Homo sapiens: one gene and its partner. The protein of the gene in region 2 interacts with the protein of the main gene of each other region in a biochemical or structural test. Each region holds a gene or a part of one and is shown on either strand. Other genes may lie near its edges.

What was found.
Region 1: the proteins of ALDH2 (region 2) and SIRT3 form a complex in vitro, tested with the Homo sapiens proteins (one study listed by BioGRID).

What each region holds. Positions count from the first base shown.
Region 1 is NC_000011.10:213,342-228,525, forward strand, and holds the end of SIRT3 (NAD-dependent protein deacetylase sirtuin-3, mitochondrial), read right to left. Parts: intron 12,741-15,184; exon of another isoform or gene 12,332-12,740; intron 10,899-12,331; coding exon 10,737-10,898; intron 6,260-10,736; exon of another isoform or gene 5,701-6,259; coding exon 5,491-5,700; coding exon of another isoform or gene 5,437-5,490; intron 3,378-5,436; coding exon 3,357-3,377; 3' UTR 1,689-3,356; downstream 1-1,688. Other genes in the region: RIC8A (chaperone Ric-8A), read left to right, coding at 1-77, 889-1,009.
Region 2 is NC_000012.12:111,792,875-111,809,078, reverse strand, and holds part of ALDH2 (aldehyde dehydrogenase, mitochondrial isoform 1 precursor), read right to left. Parts: intron 11,002-16,204; coding exon 10,837-11,001; intron 9,246-10,836; exon of another isoform or gene 9,174-9,245; coding exon 9,016-9,173; intron 5,221-9,015; coding exon 5,106-5,220; intron 1-5,105. UniProt on the Homo sapiens protein: Required for clearance of cellular formaldehyde, a cytotoxic and carcinogenic metabolite that induces DNA damage.

The DNA of each region.
Region 1 (15,184 bases), on a different chromosome or scaffold from region 2:
CCTATGGAGGGCATGACAGAGGAGCAGAAGGAGCACGAGGCCATGAAGCTGGTGACCATGTTTGACAAGCTCTCCAGGTGTGTGGCATGAGGAGGAGGGGCCTGCAGCTGGGAGAAGGGAGAGCTGACCCACATCCTGTCTTGTGAGCCCCAGGAGGTAGGATCAGAGGAGAGCTTAGGATCCTGGTATTAGGTTGCATTGCTCACGTTTGAAATCACTTGCCCTGGAGGAAATCCCCCAGGGGATGGGTATATTGAGATCAGTATTGTGCCCCTTTTACAGATGATAACTGAGGCCCAGAGAAATTAAGAGACTGTCTAAGGCCGGGCGTGGTAGCTCACGCCTATAATCCCAGCACTTTGGGAGACTGAGGCAGGTAGATCACAAGGTCAGGAGATCGAGACCATCCTGGCCAACATGGTGAAACCCCATCTCTGCTAAAATACAAAAAAAAAGTTAGCTGGGCGTGGTGGTGGGCGCCTGTAGTCCCAGCTGCTCGGGAGGTTGAGGCAGGGGAATCACTTGAACCCAGGAGGCAGAGCTTGCAGTGAGCTGACATTGTGCCACCGCACTCCAGCCTGGCAACAGAGTGAGACTTCGTCTCAAAAAAAAAAAAGAGACTAATGTCGCCAGATTTATTGGAGATGGCCCAGTGTCCAAATTAAGAGCCTGCTTAAGGCCAATTTAGATGTTTAAAATAGGAAACTGCTTAAAGCCAGGAGGCAGCAGTTAGGGTTTGGGCCCAGTTAACAGAAGGTCCAACCAGGCTTCCCCAGTAAATGGGAGCAGCCTACTTGGTAGAGAGGAAGGTAGCAGCCACGGGTGAGTAGGACCCCTGCCTGGCCAACTGGGCCCCTTCCCCAGCCCCACTGCACCTTTCCCCAACAGGAACAGAGTCATCCAGCCAATGGGGATGAGTCCCCGGGGTCATCTTACGTCCCTGCAGGATGCCATGTGCGAGACTATGGAGCAGCAGCTCTCCTCGGACCCTGACTCGGACCCTGACTGAGGATGGCAGCTCTTCTGCTCCCCCATCAGGACTGGTGCTGCTTCCAGAGACTTCCTTGGGGTTGCAACCTGGGGAAGCCACATCCCACTGGATCCACACCCGCCCCCACTTCTCCATCTTAGAAACCCCTTCTCTTGACTCCCGTTCTGTTCATGATTTGCCTCTGGTCCAGTTTCTCATCTCTGGACTGCAACGGTCTTCTTGTGCTAGAACTCAGGCTCAGCCTCGAATTCCACAGACGAAGTACTTTCTTTTGTCTGCGCCAAGAGGAATGTGTTCAGAAGCTGCTGCCTGAGGGCAGGGCCTACCTGGGCACACAGAAGAGCATATGGGAGGGCAGGGGTTTGGGTGTGGGTGCACACAAAGCAAGCACCATCTGGGATTGGCACACTGGCAGAGCCAGTGTGTTGGGGTATGTGCTGCACTTCCCAGGGAGAAAACCTGTCAGAACTTTCCATACGAGTATATCAGAACACACCCTTCCAAGGTATGTATGCTCTGTTGTTCCTGTCCTGTCTTCACTGAGCGCAGGGCTGGAGGCCTCTTAGACATTCTCCTTGGTCCTCGTTCAGCTGCCCACTGTAGTATCCACAGTGCCCGAGTTCTCGCTGGTTTTGGCAATTAAACCTCCTTCCTACTGGTTTAGACTACACTTACAACAAGGAAAATGCCCCTCGTGTGACCATAGATTGAGATTTATACCACATACCACACATAGCCACAGAAACATCATCTTGAAATAAAGAAGAGTTTTGGACAAAAATGTATGTGTAAATTATCAAATAAAGGGGCCAGGCACAGTGGCTCATGCCTGTAATCCCAGCACTTTGGGAGGCCGAGGTGGGTGGATCACTTGAAGCCAGGAGTTCGAGACCAGCCTGGCCAACATAGCAAAACCTTGTCTCTATTACAAATATGCCCATGTGCTAGGTGTGGTGGGACACACCTGTAATCCCAGCTACCCAGGAGAATCGCTTAAACCCGGGAGGCGGAAGTTGCAGTGAGCTGAGATCATAACACCGCACTCCACCCTGAGTGACAGGGCAAGACTCAAAAAATAAAAAAGGAACATTAACTAGGGTTAGAAACTAACTTCATTCTTTTTAGAATTCAACAGTTTTCCTAGGTCACCAATTCCACCTTTTGTTCTTATTAAGGCGCAAAGTCACAGGACCCCCTTCCTGGGAGTCACTGTCATTAAATCTATTGCCGTCAGCTCAGCCCAGGGTAGGCAAGGTTCAAGAATGGGAAGTGCTTTTGTCTGGGGAAACACGCAGGTAATGTGATGCTAGGAAGGAGGATGTGCAGGTGGGTGAGAGCCCAGGAGGGAGCAGCTGGTGCCTGACAGGGTGAGCCATCAGGGCTGGGCCTGGGTACAGCCCCAGGAGAAGGAGCCTGTGCAGAAGTAGCAGTTCAGTGGATTCCACCTCCTATGTCACAATCCAGCAGGTGGCCAGGACTCAGCCTGGGTTTTAAGTGAGTAATGCCTTCCCTGTCTCAGAGATTAGCTCTAACAGTGTCACTAGAGGAAGCCCTGGCGAGGGTGGGGGGGCGTAGTGTGGGGACAAGGAGGCCAGATAGAAAGTGCTGGAATGTTCTGGAACAGATCTGTTTCTGGAGGAGAGGCTGAGTATGGAGAGTCAACAGAATGTGACCACCTTCAGAGGGAGGAGCTGGGCCGTCTCCAATAAATCCAGGGACAAATGCCTTCAGTCCTCAGACTGTTCCAATAGAGGGGACGCCACGTATCCCAGGGTTCCCTTTCCAACTCATGTCAACACCTGCAGTCCCTTTGAGGAGACTAAATGTATTTCATGCTGGAAAGAACAGATTTTCTCTCATTAAAAATAGCCCCACTAAAGGAGACCAACATGCTAGAAGTGCGGCACCAGGGCCTCAAGACTACACTTCGGAACATGAAGAGGGCTGGGGACCGCTCGGCCCAAGTCTGGATCTTGTAACCAACAGATGCCGAGCTTGCCGTTCAACTAGGCACAGAAAGCAGACTCGGTCTGGGATTCCAGTTGGTCTGATTCAGTTCAAGAGGGTCACAGTCAGAAGAAAGCTTTTTCCATTAGGAGCTTCAGCAGAGTGAAGAGTTCAACACAGCAAACAGGCAGGCAGCTCCTTTGTATATGTGACGGGGTGGCCCTGACTGTAAACACAGCCCTACCAGTCACTGCAGCTCATGGCCTGAGAAGACATTCCAGTGGCAGCCTCGGGTGTCCACTCAGTTCACATATTCTGGTTTCACCTGCCCAAGCTGTCTTCAGGCATGAGGTCTTGTCAGAATTGGGATGTGGATGTCTCCTATGTTACCATTTATTGTGTGGGGGCAGCCATCATCCTATTTGTCTGGTCCATCAAGCTGGAATACAGAAGACAGAGGGTATCAGCTATCTGTTTACACACCCAGGCAGGCCAGCAGATCTCTGTTCAAACAGCTCTAGCTGCAGACATGCAAAATATTTCACAAAACAAGCTGCTTTCTGCAAATACTGCTGCTGCTGTGCTGGGCTAAGAGGATCCCAGCAGGCCTGGGCAGAACAGGGTGGCTAAATGGAGAGCCTCATTCTATGGGTCTTAAAGTACCCAAATCAATATGTACTGATGCTCATGTGCTTAAAAGCATTCACTATTTGGAAAAGTAACCCCTTGGATAGTAATGCTGTAAAAAACAGAAAATGAAATCATAACCCATTTTACATACATTTCTCTGAAACTAGATTATACAGTTCAAATCCTATTAAGCCACTTCCAAAACTCCACAGGAGCTACCAGAGTTACAATCTGCTTTTCTATGAAAACAGGAAGTTGGGCCGGGCCTGCTGGCTCATGCCTATAATCCCAGCACTTTGGGAGGCTGAGGCAGGTGGATCACCCGAGGTCAGGAGTTTGAGACCAGCCTGACTAACATGATGAAATCCCATCTCTAATAAAAGTACAGAAATTAGCCAGGCATGGTGGCACATGCCTGTAATCCCAGCTGCTCAGGAGGCTGAGGCAGGAGAATCACTTGAACCCAGGAGGCAGGGCTGCAGTGAGCCAAAATCGTGCCATTGCACTCCAGCTTGGGCAACAAGAGTGAAACTCCATTACAAAAAAAAGAAAATATGAAGTTGGAGCAGGAAAAGGATCCCTCAAAAAAGCCTGCTGGGCTGATCTAAGATCTCCGCTGCCTTGTGAGCTGGCCAGGAGGCACTCGCCTCTCAGCGTTTAAGCCTCATTGTTAGCTGGGTTCCCTGCCTCCATAATGAAGTGACCATGATTGGTAAAAAATCAGCCTGCAACCAGAGGTTGGAGGTCTTGGACTGGTGGAGGTGAGGAGAGTGCTGACCCCATGGCCCTGAGCCATGAGGCAGCCACAGCTGTGGACAAGGAAAAAGGATCAGGATTTCCTAAGACATCTGCCTTGGAAGGCAAGAGGAGCATCAACTGTGATATATTGTAGTTGATATGGTTTGGCTGTGTCCCCACCCAAATCTCACCTTGAATTGTAATCATCCCCATGTGTCAAGGGTGGGGCCAAGTGGAAGTAACTGAATCATGGGGGCGGGTCTTTCCCACACTCTTCTTCTGATAGTGAATAAGTCTCACAAGATCTGATAGTTTTATAAAGGGCAGTTCCCCCGCACACGTCCTCTTGCCTGCCACCTTGTAAGACAGTACTTTGCTCCTGCTTTGCCTTCCACTATGATTGTGAGGCCCCCACAGCCATATGGAACTGTGAGTCCATTAAACCTCTTTCCTTTATAAATTACCCAGTCTCAGGTATGCCTTTATGAGCAGCCAGAGAACAGACTAATACACTGGTGAAATCCCCTTTGGACAGTGTTACACCTGCCTGTAATCATGACACTGGACTTTAAATGCTTAATGCTACCACCTCCCATTGAAAACCCTTAATATCAAGGCTACACATGCTACATGATTCTTATGGGAAACTGCATTTTCTGTAACTTCACTTGTTTATAGGCGGTTTGAAATCTCTTAGAAAGCATCAAGGCTCTTTGGCTTTCCTCAGCGGATTATAATTGATCAATGGCTCTCATACCAATTACTTCCGAAAAGCATCACTCATGTAGCCTTCATCCCACATAGATGCAGAGAACTTTAGCTTCTCAAAGTTCTTTAACCCGTATCATCTTAGAATCACATACCAGGCCTTAGAGGGACACTGTTGGCTGCTTTATTTTAGGGAGTGAAGGTAACGCCTATAGTCTGTTAAGAATACAGACTCATCAGCCCTGAGTGTCTGGACCGTGTCCCTGCTTGGCCTGTTAGCATCTGTTTCCTCATCTCTAAATGGAGGTATTGAAAGTAACACCCAGTCAGGTCCAGGTAGTGCCTGGTGCAGGATTCACAGCATCATCAGCTATTACTGTTACTGTGTTAACCAACGGGGCTCCATATCAGGTGGACCATACCCTAGAGCAGTGAGAAGGGCAGCCCCTTGGATGGTCCTCCTCAGCAGTCTGTACCTTCCCAGTTTCCCGCTGCACAAGGTCCCGCATCTCTTCTGTCCAGCCCAGAAGCTCCACTAGGCTTTCCACGCCGTGAACCACGTCCCCCAGCTGGGCCACGTCCCTGCTGCGAGGATGCCAAGCCAAGGGCCCCACCAAGTCCCGGTTGATGAGCAGTCGGGGAACTGAGCTCCGCACGGCCTCGGTCAAGCTGGCAAAAGGCTCCACCTGAAAAATGGGCCAAACGTGAGGGGCACAGTGTCCACTTTACAAGCTCCTCAGGATGTTTCATGCCACAGCCACCGAGGCCTTGGAGGAGCAGCAGATTGGCAGTCAGAGCCTGCGATATAGGGAAAACCCACCACCAATCTCATTTCTTCAGCTGAGCTCCTGCCGCTTGGCCTCCGTGACGGTTTTCTCCCCTCCGCCTCTCTCTCTCTCTCCCACTTCTTGCTGTTTCCACACATCCTTGCTTTTCCCCACCTCCGTTCCAAGGCTCATCAGGGATCCAACCTTCCTGCCTCCTCTTTGTGAGCACGTTCTGTTCTCCCTGTCCTCCCCACCTCGCTGTCTCCCAGCATGACGCAGAGGGACAACAGCACAGACTCGTCCATCTCCTCTGGCTAGCCCTGCTTGCTCTGACAGCCACCACCAGCATCGGGCACCCAGACGAGCTGGTGCCCCCGAGCAGGAGTTACTGTTACGTCTCTCCATGGTCTTCCCCACCCAGCCTCTAGAGAGGCCTAGCTCGGTGCCATCAGGCTTCTTCATACAGCTCTCAAAGCTTCTTTTAAGAGGAACAAGGTAAAAAAATGGATACATTAATAAATGGCATTAAAACTGGCTCATTATCTGGGAGGAAAATACTCCATTCCTACCTCCCACTGAAAAAAATTCAAATGGATTAAAGGTTTCAATGTAAACAAAACAGTTCTTGAAGAAAACTAAGGATTTACAAGTAAGGATAGGGAAGAACGTTCTAGGCGTAAAAACTGAAGTCAGATAAGGCAAAGGAAAATGACAGATCTGACTATGTAAATACTATTATCTCGGTATCTACATAAAACTACTATGTAGAAAATTTAAAATTTTTAAAAACCTCTCATCATCATAAACTGCAAAAATATTTACAACATATGACAATAGTTTATATTGCTAATTGATAAACTCATTTATAAACATATAATTTATGAACTAATTTATAATGCTAATTTATAATGAAATTTATATTAACAGCTGGGCATGGTGGTTCACACCTATAATCCCAGCACTTTGGGAGGCCGAGGCGGGCAGATCAGCTGAGGTCAGGAGTTCAAGACCAGCCTGGCCAACATAGTGAAACCACGTCTCTACTAAAAATACAAAACTTAGCTGGGCGTGGTGGCACGCACCTATAATCCGAGCTACTCGGGAGGTTGAGGCAGGAGAATGGCTTGAGCCTGGGAGGTGGAGGTTGCAGTGAGCCGAGATCGCGCCACTGAACCTCCAGCCTGGGAGACAGAGCAAGACTCTGTCTCAAAAAAAAAAAAAAAAAAAAGAAAGAAGTTTATATTAACATTAAAATGTAATTATATTATTTAATTTATACTAAAATTAAAACTAATTTATATTGCTAATTTATAATGACCCAATGAAAAATGGTCAAGAGGTACAAATATACAATCCAAAGAGAAGAAACACAACTGGCAATAAACATGAAAAGATGAACTTCATTCTTTACTACAGAAAGGCAAAATCCGCACCCCCCTCCACACACACACATGCATTTTTTAACCAATTTGATTTGTGTGATTTTGGTTTTGGTGAGGATGTGATAAAATGGCTACATAAAAACACAGTTTGTGGCAGTGTAATTGTTACATCTTTCTGGAAGGCAAGTTCTCAATATTTATCAGCATTTACCCTTCAGGAGTTCTTGCATGGGTAGATAAGGATGATACACAGGGATATTCACCACAGCATTTACCCTTCAGGAGTACTTGCATGGGTAGATAAGGATGACACACAGGGATATTCACCGGAAGGCAAGTTCTCAGTATTTATCAGCATTTACCCTTCCAGAGTACTTGCATGGGTAGATAAGGATGATACACAGGGATATTCACTACAGCATTTACCCTTCAGGAGTACTTGCATGGGTAGATAAGGATGACACACAGGGATATTCACCGGAAGGCAAGTTCTCAGTATTTATCAGCATTTACCCTTCCAGAGTACTTGCATGGGTAGATAAGGATGATACACAGGGATATTCACTACAGCATTTACCCTTCAGGAGTACTTGCATGAGTAGATAAGGATGATACACAGGGATATTCACTACAGCACGGGATCTCATTCTGTTACCCAGGCTGGAATGCAGTGGCATGATCATAGTTCACTATAACCTCAAATTCCTGGGCTCAAGCAATCCTCCTTCCTCAGCCTCTCAAATAGCTGCAACTACACAGACCATGCCTGGCTATCTTTTTATTTTTTGTAGAGACGAGGTCTGACTATACTGCCCAGGCTGGTCTCAAATGCCTAGCTTCAGGCAATCTTCCTGCCTTGGCCTCCCAGAGTGCTGGGATAACAGGTGTGAGCCACGGTGCCTGGCCCAGCATTACTTTTAATGTAAAAATTATATACTATTTATTATCATTGTCCATCAGTAAGAAATTGCTTACATAAATTTTGTATTAAATCCACAAAATCTATGTTAAAGCTCTTGTGGCTGAATATGTTTCAGAATTTTTGAGATTTTAGAAAAGATCATATGGTTTACATCCCACGTTATGTCACACCTAAAGGGGATCTGGAGTGGTACTCCACAGTCAAACACATTAACATTTCGTCCACAAAGCACATGAGATAGAGTCTGTGCGTGACACCAGCTCATTCAGTTCATGATGGCACCAGCCTTACAGACATGGGTTTCTCAGTTGGGACCTCATATCCGTGTAAGGGAAACTGTTGGCATTAACAACGCAGCACATCTCCATGGACTCACATTGTTACGTGAAAACAGCAGGCTGCAGAATAGAATGTACAGTGCTGTCCAACTTTTAGTTTAAAATTACCATCTGTACGTATGCATTTGTACAAAAAAAAGAAAGCTGAGAGGACACAGAATAAAATGCTAACAGTTGGTGGGATTAAAAAGTTGATCCTTTGCTTTATATCTTTATATAATGTACGAATCTTTTCAAAGACACACATGATACACTTATAATCAGGAAAAAGGCCATTTTCATTTCACTTCAACAATAAAGATGGCTGGTGGCCCAAGTGTCCACACCTGGTGGCCAGCACGGTCAGCTGGTCTCAGCCCACACTGTGCTGACCACCATGGCCCCTCTGACTGCTCCTCCTGTGTCTGTCCCTCCATCCTAGGCCTAGCATGGCATTCTCATGTCTGTCCACACCCTGGGCTCTCCTGTCTGCTCACTCCAGCACCCCAGCTCCTGCCTCTGGGCCTTCCTGGACTCCAGACTCATGTCCACCTGCTCAACACCTCCAGTCCGCAGCACATCCTCAAATCCGTGGAAACAAGGCTGAGTTCCTGAGCTCCCCCAAACCCACCTACCAGGCTTCTCCATCTCAGGAAGCGGCGGCTCCGTCTTTCCAGCTGCTCCAGCCACAGCCCTGGGGTCCTTGGGAATCCACGGCCTCCCATGCACTGTGCCAGCGTACCCACTCTGCGTTCACACACACCCAGACTCCAGCACCCCTCAGCCTCTGCTGGCTTTACCTGGCCCCCAGCCAGTGCCAGCCGGTGATTACCTACAAGGGCCCTGCTGGGTCTGCTGCTCCCAGTCTTGCCCCCATGGTGGGCTCACAGCCCAGCACCCAACGGAGTCCTCTCAACTTCAGACTCTGGCCTGGAACCCAAGCTGAACCCATTCACCTTCTGAGGTGGCGCCAGCCTCCCATGAGATGACACTTGTGCCCCACCTTCTTCTCTGCTCCAGCCCCGTGGCCATCAATGCTGACTTCGCCCCACCCTCCTTGCTGCTTGTCACCTGTGCAGTGTCCCCTGCCAGACCCTCCTCACCTCGGTAAACTCTTAGATCCAACTCCACCTGCCTGACTTGACACTGCAGCTGGTTCCCAACCCTTCTAGCCTTTCTATCCTACTTGTTATCTTTCTCATAACATCAATCATCTCCTAACAAACTATATAACTTCTTACACTGACATCTGACCGTGTATGTCCAAAGCACTGGAGCAGGGCCCAGCACACAATGAATGCCTGAACAAACACATGCTCTGGGCCCCTGTGGCTGCCCTGGGCCCCTCTGAGCACAGGTCTTTCTGGCCCTTCTGTCCTCGGTGCCTACATCCAGTCACGCACACACTGACTTCATGGTCTCATTTCTTGCTCTCATCACAGCTTTTAGGAATTTCCTGAGCTGCAGACGCAGACGCAGAACAGCTGCTTGAACACATCCAGGGCATGTTTCCCGACACCTCAGACACACACAGAACCGAGCTGGGCATCCTCCCTCCCAAATCACGCCTCACCAGCAAGTGCCCTGACCTTACAGACCAAGCCAGACGCCTCCTTCTCACGTCCCCAAAACATCACAGACTGCGAGTCCAGTCCCCCTCCTCGCCATCCCTCAGGCGACCACAGCTCCACCTTCTCCAGGACCAGCCTCCTGGCACTGCTTGCTCCACTCTCCACTCCCCAAAGGCCTCCCTGACCCCAAGGGTGCAGCTACGTCCCCGGGCCAGTCCCTGTGGATTTATCACTCCTCCCACTGCAGCATCAGTATTCCTGATCTGACCTGGGAGGCCCTGCCCCTCCACCTCGCCCCCACACCCCCATCCTTCTCCCTTCTCCTCACACGTGGTGCCCCACCCACACCTATACCACCTCCAAAGCCCAGCAGCTTCCCACCTTCCTGTCTCCTGCACAGGCTGCTGCTCCCTCAGCCTGGAACCCCAGCTGAATCCATTCACCTTCCCAAAGTGGCACCAGCCCTGGAAGGGCCCATGAGATGACTCCTGTACCCCTCCCTTCCCCTGCCCTCCAGCCTCCTCCCTGCACAGGCCTGCCGACAGCCCATGAGATGACTCCTGTACCCCTCCCTTCCCCTGCCCTCCAGCCTCCTCCCTGCACAGGCCTGCCGACAGCCCATGAGGTGACTCCTGTACCCCTCCCTTCCCCTGCCCTCCAGACTCCTCCCTGCACAGGCCTGCCGACAGCCCATGAGATGACTCCTGTACCCCTCCCTTCCCCTGCCCTCCAGCCTCCTCCCTGCACAGGCCTGCTGACAAACCTCCAGGGAGGTCCCAAGGATGAGCAGCAGATCTGCCATGGGGAAATCAACCACATGCAGCAAGAACCTCTGGGGCAGCGGCTCCCCAAAGAACACAATGTCGGGCTTCACAACGCCGGTGCAGACCGGGCAGCGGGGAACCCTGTCTGCCATCACGTCAGCCTGGAAAACAGAGAAAACAGGCCTGAGGAAGATGCCTGCAACACCCTGTAAAAGGAAAAGGCAACAAGTTCTTATTAAAGTCTCAAACATTCTCCCCCAAAAAAGGTGAGAGAGGGATCATGAACCCCCATGTACCCAGCTTCAGGAATTACCAGTTTTCATAGCTAATTGTTTCACAGCCCTCCGGAATCTGGGAGGAGGTATTGGAGCCTTTAAAAGCAAATCTTGGACATCATATGTTTCACCCATAATTACTTCGGCAGGCATCTAGCGTATCTAACACCATGCTCTATCCCTGGGATGGCAGCCAGAGACATCCAGGCGCTAAGGAAACACCTGGTAGACCACACCAGTCCTCAAACAGTAGTCTGCAGGCATTTGGCCTACACCGAACACTATTCAGTCAGAAAGGTGAAACTGTCTCTGGTTTGAGCTTCGGTGATCATGCCATTGCCTCAGCCCTGGGAGGCATTCAGGTCAGCTTCACTCACTGGCTGGCATTATTAGGAGTAACAACATCTGCCAAACACTGCTTCCTTACTGGCCAAGGTGAAGTGGACACAACTTCCCTTTGCGTCAAGATTAATATAAATAAATGCCTTGGAGCAGATGGAAAAGGGAGAGAGTTACAGAGGAAGACACCTGACTTTCTAAGGTAAACCTTTACAGCTAACGGGGCTTGTTTTAAGCAGGCTCAGCCCAGCAAAAAGCAACAGATACAAAAGACAAAAGAAAGAGACCCACGAAAGATTTCAGATATTCTTGGATACACAGTAAAACTGTATTATATTTAAATTAAAAAGAAAAAACTGTTATCTTGGAGGCATGGGGTATAGCAAAAAAAAAAATTAAGGAAGCAAAAAAAAAAGATGAACTTGAAATATCTATCAAAGGCCAGGCGCAGTGGCTCAGCTCTGTAATCCCAGGACTTCGGGAGGCCGAGGTGGGCAGATCACGAGGTCAGGAGATCGAGACTGTCTTGGCCAACATGGTGAAACCCTGTCTCTACTAAAACACAAAAAATTAGCCAGGCGTGGTGATGCGTGCCTGTAATCCCAGCTACTTGGGAGGCTGAGGCAGGGGAATCACTTGAACCTGGGAGGCGGAGGTTGCTGTGAGCTGAGATTGCACCACTGCACTCCAGCCTGGGCAACAAAGCGAGACTCTGTCTCAAAAAACAAAACAAAACAAAACAAAACAAAAAACTATCTATTAAAGATATAAAATTATTAAAAAATTATGTAATAATGTAGCAGACTTGAAAAATAACCAAATAGAACTTCTAGAAATAAAAAGTACAGGAACCAAAATTAAAACTCAATGTCTGTTTTGAGTTGCTGTTTGGGAAAAAAGAAAGAAAGAAACACTCAATGGAAGGACCTTATAACAGAATACAATATTAGTAAACTGGAAAAAAGACCAGAAGAAATTACCCAGAATGCAGCACAAGAAGCAGCAATTACAGGACAGAAGAGTGATCAGGAACAGCAGGAGAGAGAAGGTCTAATGTATGTTCAATCAGAGGTCCCTAAAGAGAGGGGCCAGATAGTGGGCTAGGGGCAACTCATATCCGAAGAGATAACGGCAGAGTATGATCCAGCAACCATGAAAGACGCCAACCCGCAGATTCAGGATCTCAAGCAAGTGAGGGCTACTGAGCCAGCCTGAGGGTGCCCACAGGAAAAACATGAGTCACGGCACATCTGTGCTTGTTTCTGTCCCAAGAGGTTCTCAGGAGGTTTAGTAATTACATGTGGTCCTTCAAAGAGGGAGGGTGGCTGTGAGGTGAGTGGTTACGTACTTGTGAGACTTCAGTAAGTGCCCAGTAAATGTACATTTTACCTAAGATAGAAGGAAACAGAGGAAGAGAACTAAGCAGACCTCTCAGGGAAGGGTGAAGGAACCATTAATCTCATCTTGTCTTTAATCTGTATCTGGGAAGATAAACCAGTAATCCACATTAGCAGTGTAGAGTCTTTGAAAAGGGCTGGTTTCTGTTTAGCCCTTAGTGAAGAAGCCTAATGGTGGCTGGGGAGGGAGGGGTACAGTGAGGCGCGTCTGACCTCCTCTCCTGCTACGGCCAGGAACTCAAGCTTCCAAGGTTTCTCTGGGGTTCCCTTGACCAAGGGGAGGGCTCCATTCAGTTGGTTGCAGGGCTTAGAATTTTATTTTATATTTTATTTTTTTGAGATGGCATCTCGCTCTGTCACCCAGGCTGGAGTGCAGTGGCATGATCTCGGTTCACTACAACTTCTGCCTCCTGGGTTCCAGCAATTCTCCTGCCTCAGCCTCCCGAGTAGCTGGGATTACAGATGGGTGCCACCACAAATGGCTCATCTTTGTATTTTTAGTAGAGACGGGGTTTCACCATGTTGGCCAGGCTGGTCTCAAACTCCTAACTCAGGTGATCCACCCGCCTCAGCTTCCCAAAGTACTGGGATTACAGGCAGGAGCCACCGCGCCCAGCCTAGAATTTTATTTTATTTTTCTTAAGGAAGGCCTACAATTATTATTATTATTTTTTTTTTTTTGAGATGGAGTTTCGCTCTTGTTTCCCAGGCTGGAGTGCAATGGCCTAATCTCAGCTCACCGCAACCTCCGCCTCCCTGGTTCAAGCAATTCGCCTGCCTCAGCCTCCCGAGTATCTGAGATTATAGGCATGCACCATCACGCCCGGCTAATTTTGTATTTTTAGTAGATATGGGGTTTCTCCATGTTGGTCAGGCTGGTCTCAAACTCCTGACCTCAGGCGATCCACCCACCCGGCCTCCCAAAGTACTGGGATTACGGGCGTGAGCCACCATGACCAACTGGCCTACAAATTTTAAGCAGAAGAAATAAAAGAAAATTCATATGGAAAACCACAGTGGAGAAACCGCAAAACTCCAAAGACAAAAGTCTTAAAAAACAGGCAGAGAGGCCAGACACGGTGGCTCATGCCTGTCATCCCAGCACTTTGGGAGGCCGAGGCGGGTGGATCATGAGGTCAGGAGTTCGACACCAGCCTCACCAACATAGTGAAACCCCATCTCTACTAAAAATACAAAAATTAGCTGGGCATGGTGGCGCATGCCTGCAATCCCAGCTACTCAGGAGGATGAGGCAAGAGAATCGCTTGAACCTGAGAGGGGGAGGTTGCAATGAGCTGAGATCATACCACTGCACTCCAGCCTGGGCAACAGAGCAAGACTCTATCTCAAAAAAACAAAAAATCCAAACAACAACAACAAAAATAAAACAGGCAGAGAACAGATAGCAACAGTTTCAGAAATTTATATGAAAAGCCAAAAGATTCAGACCAGCCAACACAGTACTGAAGGAGAAGAACAAAGGTGGGGAATTAACATCAACCTGTTGCCCAAATTATCTATTTTATTCTCTTATTTATTTATTTATTTTGTTTTGAGATGGAGTCTCACTCTGTCACCCAGGCTGGAGTGCAGTGGTGCGATCTCAGCTCACAGCAACCTCCCCTCCCAGGTTCAAGCAATTCTTCTGCCTCAGCCTCCTGAGTAGCTGGGATTACAGGTGCACCACCACACCTGGCTAATTTTTGTATTTTTAGTAGAGATGGGATTTCACCATTTTGGCAGGCTGCTCTCAAGCTTCCCACCTCAGGTGACCCGCCTGTCTAGGCCTCCCAAAGTGCTGGAATTACAGGCGTGAGCCACTGTGCCCAGTCCCAAATAATCTCTTTTAAATGCAAATCCCTTCACATCATTTTCCTGCCTAAAAATCCTCCAATGCCTCCCATGATCGTCAGGATACAGTTCAAACCCTAACAGAGCAAGCAGGCCTCCCACACTCCAGGTCTCTGCTGCCAGAAACAGACTCTTACATCCAGACGGCCTCATCTCAAAGGTGCTTCCCAGCCTACTCTGTTCCTACAGCTGAGTCAGTGTAGTGTCCAGTACATATTTATAGTAAAATTCGTATGGCACCCAGTTGTAACTGTTGGATGACTCCACCTTATTTTAATTTCTATTCACATCCACAGAACCCAGCAAAGGGCCTGGCACTGAGGAGACTAAACTATTTGTTGAATAAATTGGTCATTCAATGAATGAGTTGACCAAAACAATAATACGTATATATCAAGTTTCTACTATGTGCTGGACTCACACTTCCTAATTTCAAAACTTACTACAAAGCTACAGTAACCAAAACATTATAGTGCAGGCACAAGGATATACAGATAACAATGGAATAGAATTGAGACTCTAGAAATAACCCATACACCTATGGCCAACTGATTTTCAACAACAATGCCAAGACCACAGTTTTTT
Region 2 (16,204 bases):
CCCTAGATGTGTTCTCCACATCACCTCTTGGGTTTGGACAGGTACCCCAAACACAACCCTAAAGAGAACCACAGTACTTCATTCAGTGTTCCCTATCACAGGACTGGCGTCACCACTCAACCCCTCCTTGGAAACCTGGGTGCCATCTTTGATTCCTAGTTTTGCTTTTCCTCTCTATATCCAGAGTCGCCAATCCTACTCCTGGCTTCCTGTCACATATACCCTCTTTTCTCCACCTGCACTGCACCACTCCAATCCAAACCACCATCTTTCTCCTTGGAGCAGTCTCCTGACAGCTCCCTCATCCCTCCTCATACTGGATGGTCCATTCTCCCTAGGGCAAGCAGAGTGAGGTTTCTTAAATTTTTTTTTTTGAGACGGAGTCTTACTCTGTTGCCCAGGCTGGAGTGCAGTGGCGCAATCTCGGCTCACTGCAACCTCTGCCTCCCAGGTTCAAGCAATTCTCCTGTCTCAGCCTCCCGAGTAGGTGGGACTACAGGCACCTGCAACCAAGCCTTGCTAATTTTTGTGTTTTTAGTAGAGAAGGGATTTCACCTTGTTGGTCAGGCTGGTCTCGAACTCCTGACCTCAGGTGATTCACCTGCCTCAGTGTCCCAAAGTGCTGGGATTACAGGCGTGAGCCACCGCGCCTGGCCGCTTTCTTAAATTTTTAAACAACTTTCTTGAGATATGATTTATGCACAATCAAGTGTAATTGCTTTTAGAATATTTTAAGTTGTGCAATCATCACCATACTCCAGTTTTAGAACATCTGCATCATCTCCAAAAGCAATCTTGCACCCATGAGCAGCCACTACCCATTCCCCATGCCCTAGATGACCAGTAATAAGTTTCTGTCTCTATAGATTAAGCAGAGCAATCTTTTAAAAATACAAATTGAGTGGGCCAGGCACAGTGGTTCACACCTGTAATCCCAGAACTTTGGGAGGCCGAGGCAGGCAGATTACTTGAGGCCAGGAGTTCGAGATCAGCCTGGCCAACAGGGTGAAACCTCATCTCTACAAATACAAAAAATTAGCCAGGTGTGGTGGCAGGCGCCTGTAATCCCAGCTAGTCAAGTGGCTGAGGCATGAGAATCGCTTGAGCCCGGGAGGCGGAGGTTGCAGTGAGCCAAGATCACAGCACTGCACTCCAGCCTGAGCAACAGAGCAAGACTCTGGCTCAGAAAAAAAAAAAAAAAAATTGAGCCACCTAATTCTTCTACTTAAAATGCTCCCATAGCTGAGATCAAACTCCATTATCAAAGACATCAAACCCCACATCATGGCCAACAAGGGCCTGTGCATTCTGGCCTTGCTCTCTCCCCACTAACCACTACATCTTCCACCACCAGCAACCTTCCTGCAGTTCCTGGAAGAGCCATATTTCTCGCCATCACAGCTTTTCCAGAAGCTATGCTCTTTGTTTAGTACGTTCTTCTCTTCCTCCCCTCACCATCTCTACTTCCACTCATCCTTCAGGTATATCAGCTTAGATACCACCCTGTCACGTGGCCATCCTGGACATCGCCTCCTTAACACTAGTCATGTGCCAAGATTTAAGACTCACCAACTGAAGTTGGACCTTTTATCCGATGTCATAACTCAAAGCCCAGCACAGGCTGTCCACCCACATGGCCACCTCCTGCTGTTGTGGACTCTGCTCGGGCAGTGGATGAAGTGTACCCACTGGGAAGTGGGTGGGGTATACAGTAAACAAGACTGGCTGTGAGCTGATCTTTGTCATAGCTTTATGGTGGGGATACAGAGGCTCATTCTACTGTTTTTTTTTTTCCGTTTTGTTTTGTTTTGTTTTTGAGACAGAGTCTCGCTCTGTCTCCCACGCTGGAGTGCAGTGGCACCATCTCGGCTCACTGCAAGCTCCGCCTCCCGAGTTCACACCATTCTCCTGCCTCAGCCTCCCAAGTAGCTGGGATTACAGGCACTCGCCACCACGCCTGGCTAATTTTTTGTATTTTTAGTAGAGATGGGGTTTCACCGTAGCCAGGATGGTCTGGATCTTCTGACCTTGTGATTCGCCCACCTCGGCCTCCCAAAGTGCTGGGATTACAGGCGTGAGCCACCATGCCCGGTCTGTTTGTTTGTTTTTTGAGACAGAGTCTTGCTCTGTTGCCCAGGCTGGAGTACAGTGGCGCGATCTCAGCTCACTGCAACCTCCACCTCCCGGGTTCAGGCAACTCTTGTCTCAGCCTCCCAAGCAGCTGGGACCACAGACACATGCCACCAGCCTGGCCAATTTTTGCATTTTTAGTAGAGATGGGGTTTCACCATGTTGACCAGGCTGGTCTCGAACTCCTGACCTCAAGTGATCTGCCCATCTCGGCCTCCCAAAATGCTGGGATTACAGGCATGAGCCACCACTCCTGGCCTCATTCTACCATTATACCTATTCTTTGCATAGATTGGAAAGTTTCCACACTAAACAAGTAAACACGTTTAGTTGATTCCAGTGAGCTATTCAGGAACACAGGTTGTGTCCTCGGCCTCTCCAGTCTCAGGCTTGGCACTGTGGCCCTGAATGAGTCCCGTTTGCCTTTTCTCACCTGCTCCACAGCTGGCAGGCTTGCCCTGAGCCTCCTCTTTTCCAATCCTGGAAAGGCTAGCTCAACCCATTTGCCTCTTCCTTAAACATCACTTGTGTTTATGTTTTCTGGTTAAACTATAATTAGTATTCACAGTAAATCATTTTCACTTCAGTGTATATTTCCCTGTTTGTTTGTTTTTTCTTTTTTTTTTTTTCCTGAGACGGAGTCTCGCTCTGTCGCCCAGGCTGGAGTGCAGTGGTGCGATCTTGGCTCACTGCAAGCTCCACCCACTGGGTTCACGCCATTCTTCCGCCTCAGCCTCCTGAGTAGCTGGGACTACAGGCACCTGCCACCACACCTAGCTAATTTTGTTTTTGTATTTTTAGTAGAGACGAGGTTTCACCATGTTAGCCAGGATGGTCTCGATCTCCTGACCTCGTGGTCTGCCCACCTCAACCTCCAAAAGTGCTAGGATTACAGGTGTGAGCCACTGCGCCCGGCCTGTTTTTTTTTTTTTTGAGTCTCACTCTGTCGCCAGGCTGGAGTGCAGTGGTGCAATCTTGGCTCACTGCAACCTCCACCTCCCGGGTTCAAGCAATTCTCCTGCCTCAGCCTCCCAAGTAGCTGGGACTACAGGCATGTGCCGCCACGCCCAGCTAATTTTTGTATTTTTAGTAGAGACAGGGTTTCACTATCTTGGCCAGGATGGTCTCGATCTCTTGACCTTGTGATCCACCCACCTCAGCCTCCAGAAGTGCTGGGATTATACGCGTGAGCCACCGCGCCCGGCCATTTTGTTTTTAATAAGATGGTATCTTGCTACATTGCCAAATTAATCGCTTATGAAATTGGCGAACATGACTCTTCAATTTGGCCTGTCCAAGTTTTTCGACTTACAAAACTGAGAGCCAGGCTGGGTGTGGTAGCTCATGCCTATAATCCCAGCACTTTGGGACCAAGGCAGGAGAATCACTTGAGCCCAGGAGATTGAGACCAGCCTGGGTAACATAGTGAGACCCCATCTCTACAAGAAATACAAAAATTAGTCAGGAATGGTGATGTGCACCTGTAGTCCCAGCTACTCGGGAGACTGAGATGCGAGGATCACTTCAGCCCAGGAGGTGGAGGCTGCAGTGAGCTGTGATGGCACCAGTACACTCCAGCCTGGTGATTCCAATCCTGGAAAGGCCTGCTCAACCCATTTTCCAGGCTAGCTTCAAACTTGTGGCTCAAGCGATCCTCCCACCTTGGCCTCCCGAGTAGCTGGGACTACAGGCATGCAACACCACGCTCCAGTTTTTCCTTTCTTTTTTTATATTTATAAGTAAATGTATCTGAGTATCTATCTATGTACATAAATTCCAAAAATTGGGCTTATATTGATGATATATTAGTTTGTATACTGCTTTTACTTTAAAGGCTAAGCATTTTTCATATCAAATATTCTACAAAAACATTTGTAACAGATACCTGTTACTCCTTGATTGGGGTGTTCCATAATTTATTGGGCATTAAGTTTACATCTGATTTTCCCCTCTTAGAGATAAAGCAGTGATGAATATTTATGGAAGGAACGCTTTCTTTGTATTTCTGATGGGTCCTTCAGGCTATATTCCAGTCATTGAAGTTGCAAATCAAAGGAGATGCATATGGTTATGGGCCTTGATATCTCATGCCTAATAGCTTATGTTTGTATTATTTATTTTTAAATATTTTTATTACTGTGGGAATTGCTCCATTCCAACCTAATAGCTAATTCTTTTTTCTTTTCTTTTTTTTTTTTTTTTGAGACGGAGTCTCGCTCTGTTGCCCAGGCTGGAGTGCAATGGCACAATCTCGACTCACTGCAACCTCCGCCTCCCGTGTTCAAGCGATTCTCCTGCCTCAGCCTCCTGAGTAGCTGGGATTACAGGCGCACGCCACCACACCTGGCTAATTTTTGTATTTTAGTAGAGACAAGGTTTCACCATGTTGGTCAGGCTGGTCTCAAACTCCTGACCTCATTCGTGATCCACCCACCTTGGCCTCCCAAAGTGCTGGGATTACAGGTGTGAGCCACCGTGCCCGGTGAAAAGCCACCGCGCCTGGTGAAAATCTGAAAAGATTCTTACTAGAAGCTTTTCCTCTCCGCTCCGCCCCCTGAAGTCTCTCCCTCTTCTCAGGCCTACAGGCCTTGGCGTATAACGAAGCCCAGCAAATGACCGCATAGGCCTGATGGGGGCACGTCCCTCAGTATTTCTCATGGGACAGAGCAGAGGCTGGGTCTTTACCCTCTCTTGTCACTTCTCAGGCTTAAAATGGGAAATTAGTAGGAAACACTGATGGCCTCAAGCATGAGGGAGAGGCCAAAAGGTGGCCCGCCCAGCAGACCCTAAATCCCTGGCAGGCCCTGATCCCCAGCAGGTCCTGAACTTCCAGCAGGCCCTGAGTCCCCGGCAGGTCCTGAACCTCTGGCAGGCCCCGAGCCCCCAACAGACCCCAATCCCCCAGCAGGCTCCGAGCCACCAGCAGACCCTCAAGCCCCAACAGGCCCTGAGCCCCCAGCAGGTCCCACACTCACAGTTTTCACTTCAGTGTATGCCTGCAGCCCGTACTCGCCCAACTCCCGGCCACTCCCCGACATCTTGTAGCCACCAAAGGGTGACTGGGCTCCAAACACATCATAGCAGTTGACCCTGTAATTTGAAACGAGATTGCAGAAATCACTCTTGGGGGTTATGGGTTACACTCCCAGGACCCCCTGTATTGCCCCAAAGTCTTTATTTTATTTTTAACTTAAAAAAAAATTTTTTTTTTTGAGATAGAATCTTTCTCTGTTGCCCAGGCTGGAGTTGCCATGGCATGATCTTGGCTCGTTGCAACCTCCACATCTGGGGTTCAAGAGATTCTCCTGCCTCAGCTTCCTGAGTAGCTGGACTACCAGCACGTGCAACCACGCCTGGCAATAAATTTTTTTTTAAGAGACAGGGTCTGATTATGTTACCCAGGCTGGTCTCCAACTCCTGGTCTTCAGTGATCCTCCTGCCTCAGCCTCCCAAGTAGTTAAGATAACAAGTATGTGCCACTATGCCTGGCTAATTTTTTTATCTTTTATTTTTTGTAGAGATGGGGTCTCACTATGTTGCCCAGGCTGGTCTCGAACTCCTGGCCTCAAGTAATTCTCCTGCCTCAGGCTCCCAAAGCACTGGGATTACTGGTATGAGCCACTGCACCTGGATGGCTTTCTTTTCTTTTCTTTCATTTTTTTTTTTTGCAATTTAAAAAAATTATTAAATTTTATTTGAATTTGAAATTTACCATTTATTTATTTATTTTTATTTATTATTATTATTTTTTGAGATTATTTTTTGAGATGGAGTTTCACTCTGTTGCCCAGGCTGGAGTGCAGTGGTGAGATCTCAGCTTACTGCAACCTCCGCCTCCCAGGTTCAAGCGAATCTCCAGCCTCCCGAGTAGCTGGGATTACAGGTGCATGCTACCATGCCCAGCTAATTTTTCTATTTTTAGTAGAGACAGGGTTTCACCATGTTGGTCAGGCTGGTCTCAAACTCTTGACTTCGTGATATGCCTGCCTTGGCCTCCCAAAATGCTGGGATTACAGGTGTGAGCCACCACGCTTGGCCTATTTTTAATTTTCTTTTTTTTTTTTTTTTTGAGACAGAGTCTCGCTCCGTCGCCCTGGCTGGAGTGCAGTGGTGCGATCTCGGCTCACCGCAAGCTCCGCCTCCCAGGTTCACGCCATTCTCCTGCCTCAGCCTCCCGAGTAGCTGGGACTACAGGTGCCCGCCACCACACCCGGCTAAATTTTTGTATTTTTAGTAGAAACGGGGTTTCACTGTGTTAGCCAGGATGGTCTTGATCTTCTGACCTCGTGATCCGCCCGCCTTGGCCTCCCAAAGTGCTGGGATTACAGGTGTGAACCACAGCGCCCTGCCCTTTTTCTTTTCTTTTTTTGAGACAGAGTCTCACTCTGTTGCCAAGCTGGAGTGCAGTGGTGCGATCTCGGCTCACTGCAACTTCTGCCTCTAAAGTTCAAGTGATTCTCCTGCCTCAGCCTCCTGAGTAGCTGGGATTACAGGTGCCCACCACTGCGCCCGGCTAATTTTTTTTTTTTTTTTTTTTGAGACAGAGTCTTGCTCTGTCACCCAGGCTGGAGTGCAATGGCACGATCTCAACTCACTGTAACCTCTGCCTCCCGGGTTCAAGCGATTCTCCTGCCTCATCCTCCCAAGTAGCTGGGATTACAGGTGCATGCCACCACACCCGTCTAATTTGTGTATTTTTAGTAGAAACAGGGTTTCACCATGTTGGTCAGGCTGGTCTTGAACTCCTGACATCATGTTCCACCTACTTCGGACTCCCAAAGTGCTGGGATTACAGGTGTGAACCACCACGGCCTTACAGGTGTGAGCCACCAGGCCCAGGCCTAATTTTTGTATTTTTAGTAGAGACGGGGTTTCACCACATTGGCCAAGATGGTCTCCATCTCCTGATCTCGTGATCCGTCTACCTTGGCCTCCCAAAGTGCTGGGATTACAGGGGTGAGCCACTGCACCCAGCCTAAAATTCACCATTTTAAAGTGTACAATCACTGGTTGACAGCATATTCACAGTGTTGTGTGACCATCACCACTGTCTAATTGCAGAACATTTCTATCACACTGAAAGAAGCCCTGTGCCCAGGAGGCAGGCACTCTCCATTCCTCCCTCCCCCAGCCCCTGGCAACCACTAACATACTTTCTATCTCTATGGATTCGCCTATTCTAGATATTTATAATACTGTAAATGGAATCACACAGCATGTGGCCTTTTGTGCCTGGGTTCTTTTTTTTTTTTTTTGGAGTCTCACTCTATCGCTCAGGCTGGAGCGCAGTGGCATGATCTCCACTCACTGCAATCTCCGCCTCCCAGGTTCAAGCGATTCTCCTGCCTCAGCCTCCCGAGTAGCTGGGACTACAGGCACCTGCCACCACAGCCAGCTAAGTTTTGTGTTTTTAGTAGAGATAAGGTTTCACCATGTTGGCCAGGCTGGTCTCAAACTCTTGACCTCAAGTGACCTACCCACCTCGGCTTCCCAAAGTGCTGGGATTACAGGCATGAGCCACCGCACCCAGACAGTCTGGGTTCTTTCACTCAATGTTATGTTCAAGATTAATCCATGCTATTGCATGCATGGCTACTGATATGGCTTGGCTTTGTCCCCACCCAAATCTCATCTTGAATTGTAGCTCCCACAATTCCCACGTGTTGTGGGAGGTAATTGAATCATGGGGCCAGGTCTTTCCCATGCTATTCTTGTGACAGTGAGTAAGTCTCACAAGATCTGATGGTTTTATAAAGGGGAGTTTCCCTGCACAAGTTCTCTTCTCTTGTCTGCCACCACGTGAGACATGCTTTTCACCTTTCACCATGATTGTGAGGCCTCCCCAGCCACGTGGAACTGTGTGAGTCCATTAAACCTCTTTCCTTTATAAATTACCCGGTCTCTGCAATGTCTTTACCAGCAGTGTGAGAACAGACTCATACAGCTACTTCATTCCTTTCTGTGGCTGAGCCACATTTCATTGCATGGACAGATCACATTCTGTATCCATTCATCTACAGACGGACATTTGGGTTGTGTTCACCTTTTGGCTGTTACAAATAATGCTGCTGTGAAGATTCATATACACGTTTTTATGTGGGAGCACGTTTTTCTTTCTCTTGGATAAATACCTAGGAGTGGAATTGCTGGGTCATATGGGGGCTTCATGTTTAACTTTTTGAGGAGCTCCCAAATTATTTTCCACAATGAGTGTGCCATTTTCCATTCCCATCAGCAACATAGGAGGGTTCCGATTTCTCCACATCCTTACCAATACTTTAAAATATATATACATATAGCCCAGCCTGGGCAACATGGCGAGATCTCATCTCTACAAAAAATAAAAATGTTTTTTAATTGTCCAGGTGTGGTGGTACACACCTGTGGTCCCAGCTACTCAGGAGGCAGAGGTGGGAGGATTGCTTGAGCCCAGGAGTTCAAGGCTGCAGTGAGCTATAATCGCACCCCACAGCACTTCAGCCTGGGTAGAATATTTTTTTCTGTCTGAAAAAATAAAACTAAAAATAAATAAATAATAAAAATATAGCCATCCTAGTGGGGGCTAAGTGTGAAGCAGAGGCTAAGCTTTTAGGATCAGTGTCACAATCATGGGTCCCTCTGCTCTGGTCTCCTGCCCTGAGGCAGCTGGGGAGGAGCCCCACCACTCCGCTGCCTGCCAAGTTCAGGTGCAGGGCCTTTGCACCACAGAGAAGCTTGATCCTTCGGAGGTGAGGTAGCAGGACCTCTCAAATCGACATCACACCCTGACCCAGGAGAAACTGAGCCCAGCTCCCCAAATTCCAGGATGGTGACCACCAGATTCCAGTAGGCCCTGGCTTTGAGGAATCTCTGTTGGGTTGTGAGGGGCTGCTGGGAGGCTCTTACCACACAGTGCCCGCCTGGAGGGCCTGGGACAGGTAATTGGCCTTGTCCAAATCCTTTGTGAAGACAGCTGCGGCCAGCCCGTACGTGGAATTGTTGGCTCTCCCAACAACCTCCTCTATGGTCTTGAACTTCAGGATCTGCATCACTGGCCCGAAGATCTGGAGTGAGAGAGCAGCGTAGGAGGGTTCGGCAACACGGAGGCACCTGCCATCGAGCTCTCTCAGAGCAGAACAGATGATTCCAGATTGGGGGATAAGCCCCCAGCCATGCTCTAACAGTTCCAGGGGAAGACAACAGCCATCAAGCTCAGCAGAACACAGAGGGAATGGAGCTAACAGGGGCCAACTTCCTCCTGTGCGCCCCGGGCTTTACATACAGTATCCCATTTCTAAACAATCCTGCCAGGTATGTTATTCACACGTGACACGTAGATTTAGTGTCAAAGAATTTAAGTCAGCTGGGCATTGTGGCTCATGCCTGTAATCCCAGCACTTTGGGAGGCCAAGGTGGGAGAACTGCTTGAGTCTAGGAGTTCGAGTCCAGCCTGGCAAACACAGAGAGACCCTGTCTTTACTCAAAAAAAAAAAAAAAATTTTTGGCCAGGCACGATGGCTCACACCTGTAATCCCAGCATTTTGGGAGGCTGAGGCAGGTGGATCACCTGAGGTCAGGAGTTGGAGACAAGCCTGGCCAACATGGTGAAACCCCATCTCTACTGAAAATAAGAAAAATTAGCTGGGCGTGGTGGTGTGCGCCTGTAATCCCAGCTACTAGTAGGGTCTGAGGCAGGAGAATCGCTTGAACCCGGGAGGCAGAGGTTGCAGTGAGCTGAGATTGCACCACTGCACTCCAGCCTGGCGACAGAGTGAGACTCCATCTCAAAACGAGAAGAGAAAAAATAAGCCGGGCGTGGTGGCTCATGCCTGTAATCCCAGCACTTTGGGAGGCCGAGGCAGGCAGATCACGAAGTCAGGAGTTCGAGACTAGTCTGATCAACATGGTGAAACCCTGTCTTTACTAAAAATACAAAAATTAGCCAGGCGTGGCTAAAACTGGAGACAGAGTCCCGCTCTGTTGCCTAGGCTGGAGTGCAGTGGCGCGATCTCGGCTCACTGAAACCTCTGCCTCCCAGGTTCAAGCGATTCTCCTGCCTCAGCCTCCAGAGTAGCTGGGATTTCAAGCAAGCGCCACCACGCAGGGCTAATTTTTTCTTATTTTTAATACAGACAGGGTTTTGCCATGTTGGCCAGGCTGGTCTCGAACTCATGACCTCAGGTGATCCACCCACTTCGGCCTCCCAAAGTGTTGGGATTACAGGCGTGAGCAACTGCACCCAGCCTGTACTAAAAAATTTTTTTAAAATTAGCCAGGCATGGTGGTGAGCACCTGTAGTCCCAGCTACTCAGAAGGCTGAGGTGGGAGGATCATTTGAGCCCAAGAGTTCAAGGCTATAAGGAGCCATGATTATGCCACTGCACTCCAGCCTGGGCAACAGAGCAAGAATCTGACTGAAAGAAAAAAGGTCATGGGAAGGAGCAGACAATGTCATTCCTAGACTCCTGGCTCTGAGGGCCAGGACACCAAGGCCTGCAGGCCATGCTGAGGAATGCAGACGATCTCCCAGACAGAGGGTACAAGCTGAAGAGGAGGGACAAGATCAGATACATACTATGAATAGCGTGTTATGGGCACTGGTTCTGGGTATAACTTGAGATCTGGCCCCAAGCCAGCAGATGGGTGACAGCATCAGGATGCCAGGCTGAACTGTTTACCTCACCTCCCGCCAAGAATGTTTCCAGAGCACTGGCCCCAAGTGCTCACCTCCTCCTTGGCGATGGTCATGCCATCCTGCACATCTCCAAACACAGTGGGCTGGATGAAGTAACCACGGTCAGCAGCAATGCCCCCACCACACAGCAGCTTCGCCCCCTCTTGCTTCCCCGTGTTGATGTAGCCGAGGATCTTCTTAAACTGAGTTTCATCCACCTGTGGGAGAAGGAACCCAGAGTTATGGAGACATCGGATTCAGACCTCTCCTAGGCTTCAGGCTTAGAATTATGCAGGCAACAAGACAACTGGGAAATGGACCAAGGTCATAAGAAAGCAAGATCAGAAGAGGAAACACACAGGGCCAATAGCAGAAAACACAAAAAAGGCCCAACTTCCTCAGCCTACCGGAGAAAAGGACATCAAATCAATCTTTACTTTTCAACTATAAGATTACCAAAAAGTTTAGGAAGAAAATACACTGATAGCAAGAGACCGTTACATATACTGTTAGAAGGATGACAGACTGGTACAGCCTTTAGAGCAAGTGGTTTATTAATATTGCTCAAAAATTATATACTCAGATCCTTTGGCCCAGCTATTTAACTTCTAGGAATTTATTCTACATATGCACAAAGAGAAATGAACAAGGATATTCACTAGGGAGTATTTTTTTTTTTTTGTATTTTTGTTTTTGAGATGGGGTCTCACTCTGTCACCCAGGCTGGAGTGCAGTGGTGCGATCTCCACTCACTGTAACCTCTGCCTCTCATGCTCAAATGATCCTCCCACCTCAGCCTCCCGAGTAGCTGGGACTATAGGCATGCACCCCTACGCTGGGCTAATTTTTGTATTTTTAGTAGAGACAGGGTTTTGCCTTGTAGCCCAGGCTGGGGGAGCATTTTGTAAAGGCAAAAGATGGAAACAATTCTAAGTATAAATCAGTAGAGGGGTTGGTTAAAATTATTACGGTGCATCCAGTATATTGTCATCACTAATAGATCTGTGAACTAACTGACACAGAAAGATGGCCCAAGATACTCTGTAAAAAGAAGGAAAGCTTGGGCCAGGGGCAGTGGCTCACGCCTGTAATCTCGGCACTTTGGGAGGACGAGGCAGGCAGATCATGAGGTCAGGAGTTCAAGACTAGCCTGGCCAACATAGTGAAACCCCGTCTCTACTAAAAATACAAAAATTAGCTGGGCATGGTGGCACATGCTGAGGCAGGAGAATCGCTTGAACCAGGGAGGTGGAGATTGCAGTAAGCCAAGATCGCGCTATTGCACTCCAGCTCTGGCAACAGAGACTTCGTCTCAAAAAAAAAAAAAAAAAGAAGTAAAGCTTGTAGAACAATATGCACTTATATACTCCTTTATAGGGTAGGGGAGAAGGGCGACAGGGTCTCACTCTATTGCCCAGTCTGAAGAGCAGTGGCACAATCACGGCTCACTGCAACTTCAATCTCCCTGAGCTCAGGTATCTTCTCATCTCAGTCTCCCGAGTAGCTGGACCACAGGTGTGTGCCACCACACCTGGGTAATTTTTATATTTTTAGTAGGGATGGGGTTTTGCTATGTTGCCCAGGCTAGTATCTAACTCCTGGGCTCAAGTAATTGACTCACCTTGGCCTCCCTCCCAAGTGTTAGGACTACAGGGGTTAGCCACCACACCCAGCCTATTTTTTAAAAAATAAACATACAACAGCATAACTGTGTGTGCATGAGTGGTTACCAATGGAGAATAAAAGAAATGCAACAAAGTCTTATTTTTTACATTAAATACCTTTTTTTAAAAAGAGTCAGGGCCTCACTCTGCCACTCAGGCAGCAGTGCAGTGGTGTGATCACTGCTCACTGCAGCCTTGACCTCCTGGGCTCCCACCTCAGCCTCCCAAGTAGCTGAGAGTATAGGCACGCATCACTACATCTGGCTAATTTTTTTTTGCTTTTTTTTAAAAAAAAAATTATTTATTTTTTGAGGTGGAGTCTCACTCTGTCACCCAGGCTGGAGTGCGGTGGCACGATTTTGGCTCACCACAACCTGCGCCTCCCGGGTTCAAGTGATTCTCCTGCCTCAGCCTCCCGAGTAGCTGGGATTATAGGCGCCCACCACCACGCCCAAATAGTTTTTGTATTTTTAGTAGAGATGAGGTTTCACCGTGTTGGCCAGGCTGGTCATGATTTGCATTTTTTTTTTTTTAGTAGAGATGAGGTCTTGCTGTAGTGCCCAGGCTGATCTCGAAATCCTGGGCTCAAGAGATTCTCCTGCCTCAGCCTCCCAAAGTGTTGGGGTTACAGATGTGAGCTGCCACACATAGCCTAAACACTTTCTCATTAAATTTATTAATGCAAGTTTATATTATCTTAATAATTAGCCACAAAGAGAAATGAGACAAAAAGAAATGTTAGGACGGGTGCAGTGGCTCAAGCCTGTAATCTCAGCACTTTGGGAAGCTGAGGTGGGCGGATCACAAGGTCAGGAGTTCAAGACCAGCCTGGCCAACATGGTGAAACCCTGTCTCTACTAAAGATACAAAAAATTAGCTGGGCATGGTGGTGGGCGCCTGTAATCTCAGCTACTCGGGAGACTGAGGCAGGAGAATCATTCAAACCTGGGAGACGGAGGTTGCAGTGAGCCGAGATCGTGCCACTGTACTCCAGCCTGGAGACAGAGCAAGACTCTGTCTCAAAAAAAAAAAAAAGAAAAGAAATGTTAGGACAGGTGCGGTGGCTCACACCTGTAATCTCAGCACTTTGGGAGGCTGAGGCAGGTGGATCACCTGAGGTCAGGAGTTCAAGACCAGCCTGACCATCTTGGTGAAACCCTGTCTCTACTAAAAATACAAAAATTAGCAGGGCGTGGTGGCGTGCACTTGTAGTCCCACCTACTCAGGAGGCTGAGACAGGAGAATTGTTTGAACCTAGGAGGTGGAGGTTGCAGTGAGCTGAGATGATGCCACTGCACTCCAGCCTGGGTGACAGAGCGAGACGGTCTCAAAAGAAAGAAAGAAATGTTAGTGCCCCTAGCTGCACTATTCACAGTAACCAAAAGGTGGAAACAATCAAGTCTGTCAACAGATTAATAGAAAAATCAAAATGTGGTCTATTCACACAATGGAATATTACTTGGCCTTTTATGTTCTGATACATTCTTATTACAACATGGATGAACCTTTAAAACATGGCTACTTGGAAGAAGCCAGACACAAAGAACCATGTAGGATTCCATTTGCATAAAATGTCCAAAATAGATAAATCTATAGGCAGAACATAGATTGGTGGTTGCCTGGGCCTGGTAGGGGGAGGAATGGGGAGTGACTGCTAATGGGTACAGGATATTTAGGGGAGGCAATGACAATATTATAGAATTAGTGGTGATGGTTGCACAAAGTTGTGAATATACTAAAAATCACTGAATCGTACACTAAAATGGTGCATTTTATGCTACGTGAATTATATCTCAATAAAGCTATTAAAGATAGAGATGTTGGAGGCCAGGCACAGTGGCTCACACCTGCAATCCCAGGACTTTGGGAGGCTGAGGTGGGAGGATTGCTTGAGCCCAGCAATTCAAGACCAGCCTGGGTAACATAGCAAGACCTCATCTCTATAAAAAATATGAATATTAGCCAGGTGTGGTGACGTGTGCCTGTAGTCCCACCTACTTGGGAGGCTGAAGCAGGAGGATCACTTGAGGCCAGGAGGTTAAGCCTGCAGTGAGCCATGATCACACCACTGCATTCCAGCCTGGGCAACAGAACAAGACCCTGTCTCTAAAAAAAATCAAAGAGGGGGATGTTGGGCACATAACCCTGTCCCATGGCAAGGCCAGTCCATCCTCAGACATGGCTGTGGCTCCCCACTGAGGAATCAGAAATGCAAACTGCTAAAAGAAAGAAGCCAGTCTGAGAAGGCTACCTACTGTATGATTCGTATAAGACAATCTGGAAAAGGCAAAACTATAGAGACAATAAAAAGATCGGCCAGGCACAATGGCTCACGCCTGTAATCCCAGCACTTTGGAAGGCTGAGGTGGGTGGATCACGAGGTCAGGAGATCGAGACCATCCTGGCCAACGTGGTGAAACCCTGTCTCTACTAAAAATACAAAAATTAGCTGGGCATGGTGGCATGCACCTGTAAGTCCCAGCTACTCAGGAGGCTGGGGCAGGAGAATCACTTGAACCCAGGAGGTACAGGTTGCAGTGAGCCGAGATCACGCCACTGCACTCCAGCCTGGTGACGGAGCGAGACTCTGTCTCAAAAAAAAAAAAAAAAAAAAAAATCAGTGGTTGCCTGCCAGGGCTCAGGGGAGGAAAAGAGGGAAGAATAGGTGGAGGACGGGGGTTTCAGGGCACAAATATATTTATATGATACTAGAATGATGGTATCATACACATTATGATACATTTGTCTAGGCCCATAGTAAGTACAACACAAAAAATGACCCCGAGGCTGGGTGCCTGACAGCAGATTGCCCGAGCTCAGGAGTTCGAGACCAGCCTGGGCAACAGAGTGAAACCCTGTCTCTACTAAAACACAAAAAATTAGCCAGGCGTGGTGGTGCGCACCTGTAGTCCCAGCTACTCAGGAGGCTGAGGCACAAGAATTGCTTGAACCCGGGAGGCATGAGTCGAGATCGTGCCACTGCACTGCAGCCTGGGTGACAGAACAAAACTCTGTCTCCAAAAAAAATAAAAATTAAAAAAAAAAACCCGAATATACACTACAGACCTAAGTGAATAATAAGGTACCAGTATTGGCTCATCAATACTAACAGATGAACCACACTCATGCAGGATGTGAATAAAGGGGAAACTGGTGGAACAGGGAGGTGCGAAGGAATATATGGGCACCCTCTGTACGTTCAGCTCTATTTTTCTATAAACCTACAACTGCTCAAAAGTAAAATCCAGGCCAGGTGTGGTGGTTCATGTCTGTAATCCCAGCACTTTGAGAGGCCAAAGCAGGAGGACTCCTTGAGCCCAGGAATTCAAGGCTGAGGTGAGGTATGATTGCACCACTACACTCCAGCCTGGGCAACAAAGAGAGACCTTGTCTCTAAAATATAAATAGGTAAATAAATAAATAAATAAAATCAAACAGCTCAAAACATGAAGTGAAATAAAGTCCCTATACTAGCCATACCATGGCTCTCAGACACGAAGGTTCACAGAGCTGTGTATCTTCTGGTGGATACACTTCTACTGATGACCAAGGTCTTGGAAACACACACTCCCTTTTGCAGACACTCCTGGTATTTGTTACATATATGCAATTTACAAAGTGCTTCCCAGGATTAATTTCTACATCACAGCCACCCTGTGAATGAGGCAGGGCACGGCTCGGGATGGGGAAATGAAGGCTGAGGGAGGGAACATAGCTTCCCAAAGGCACACAGCTGCTGTGTGGTAGAGCTGAGACC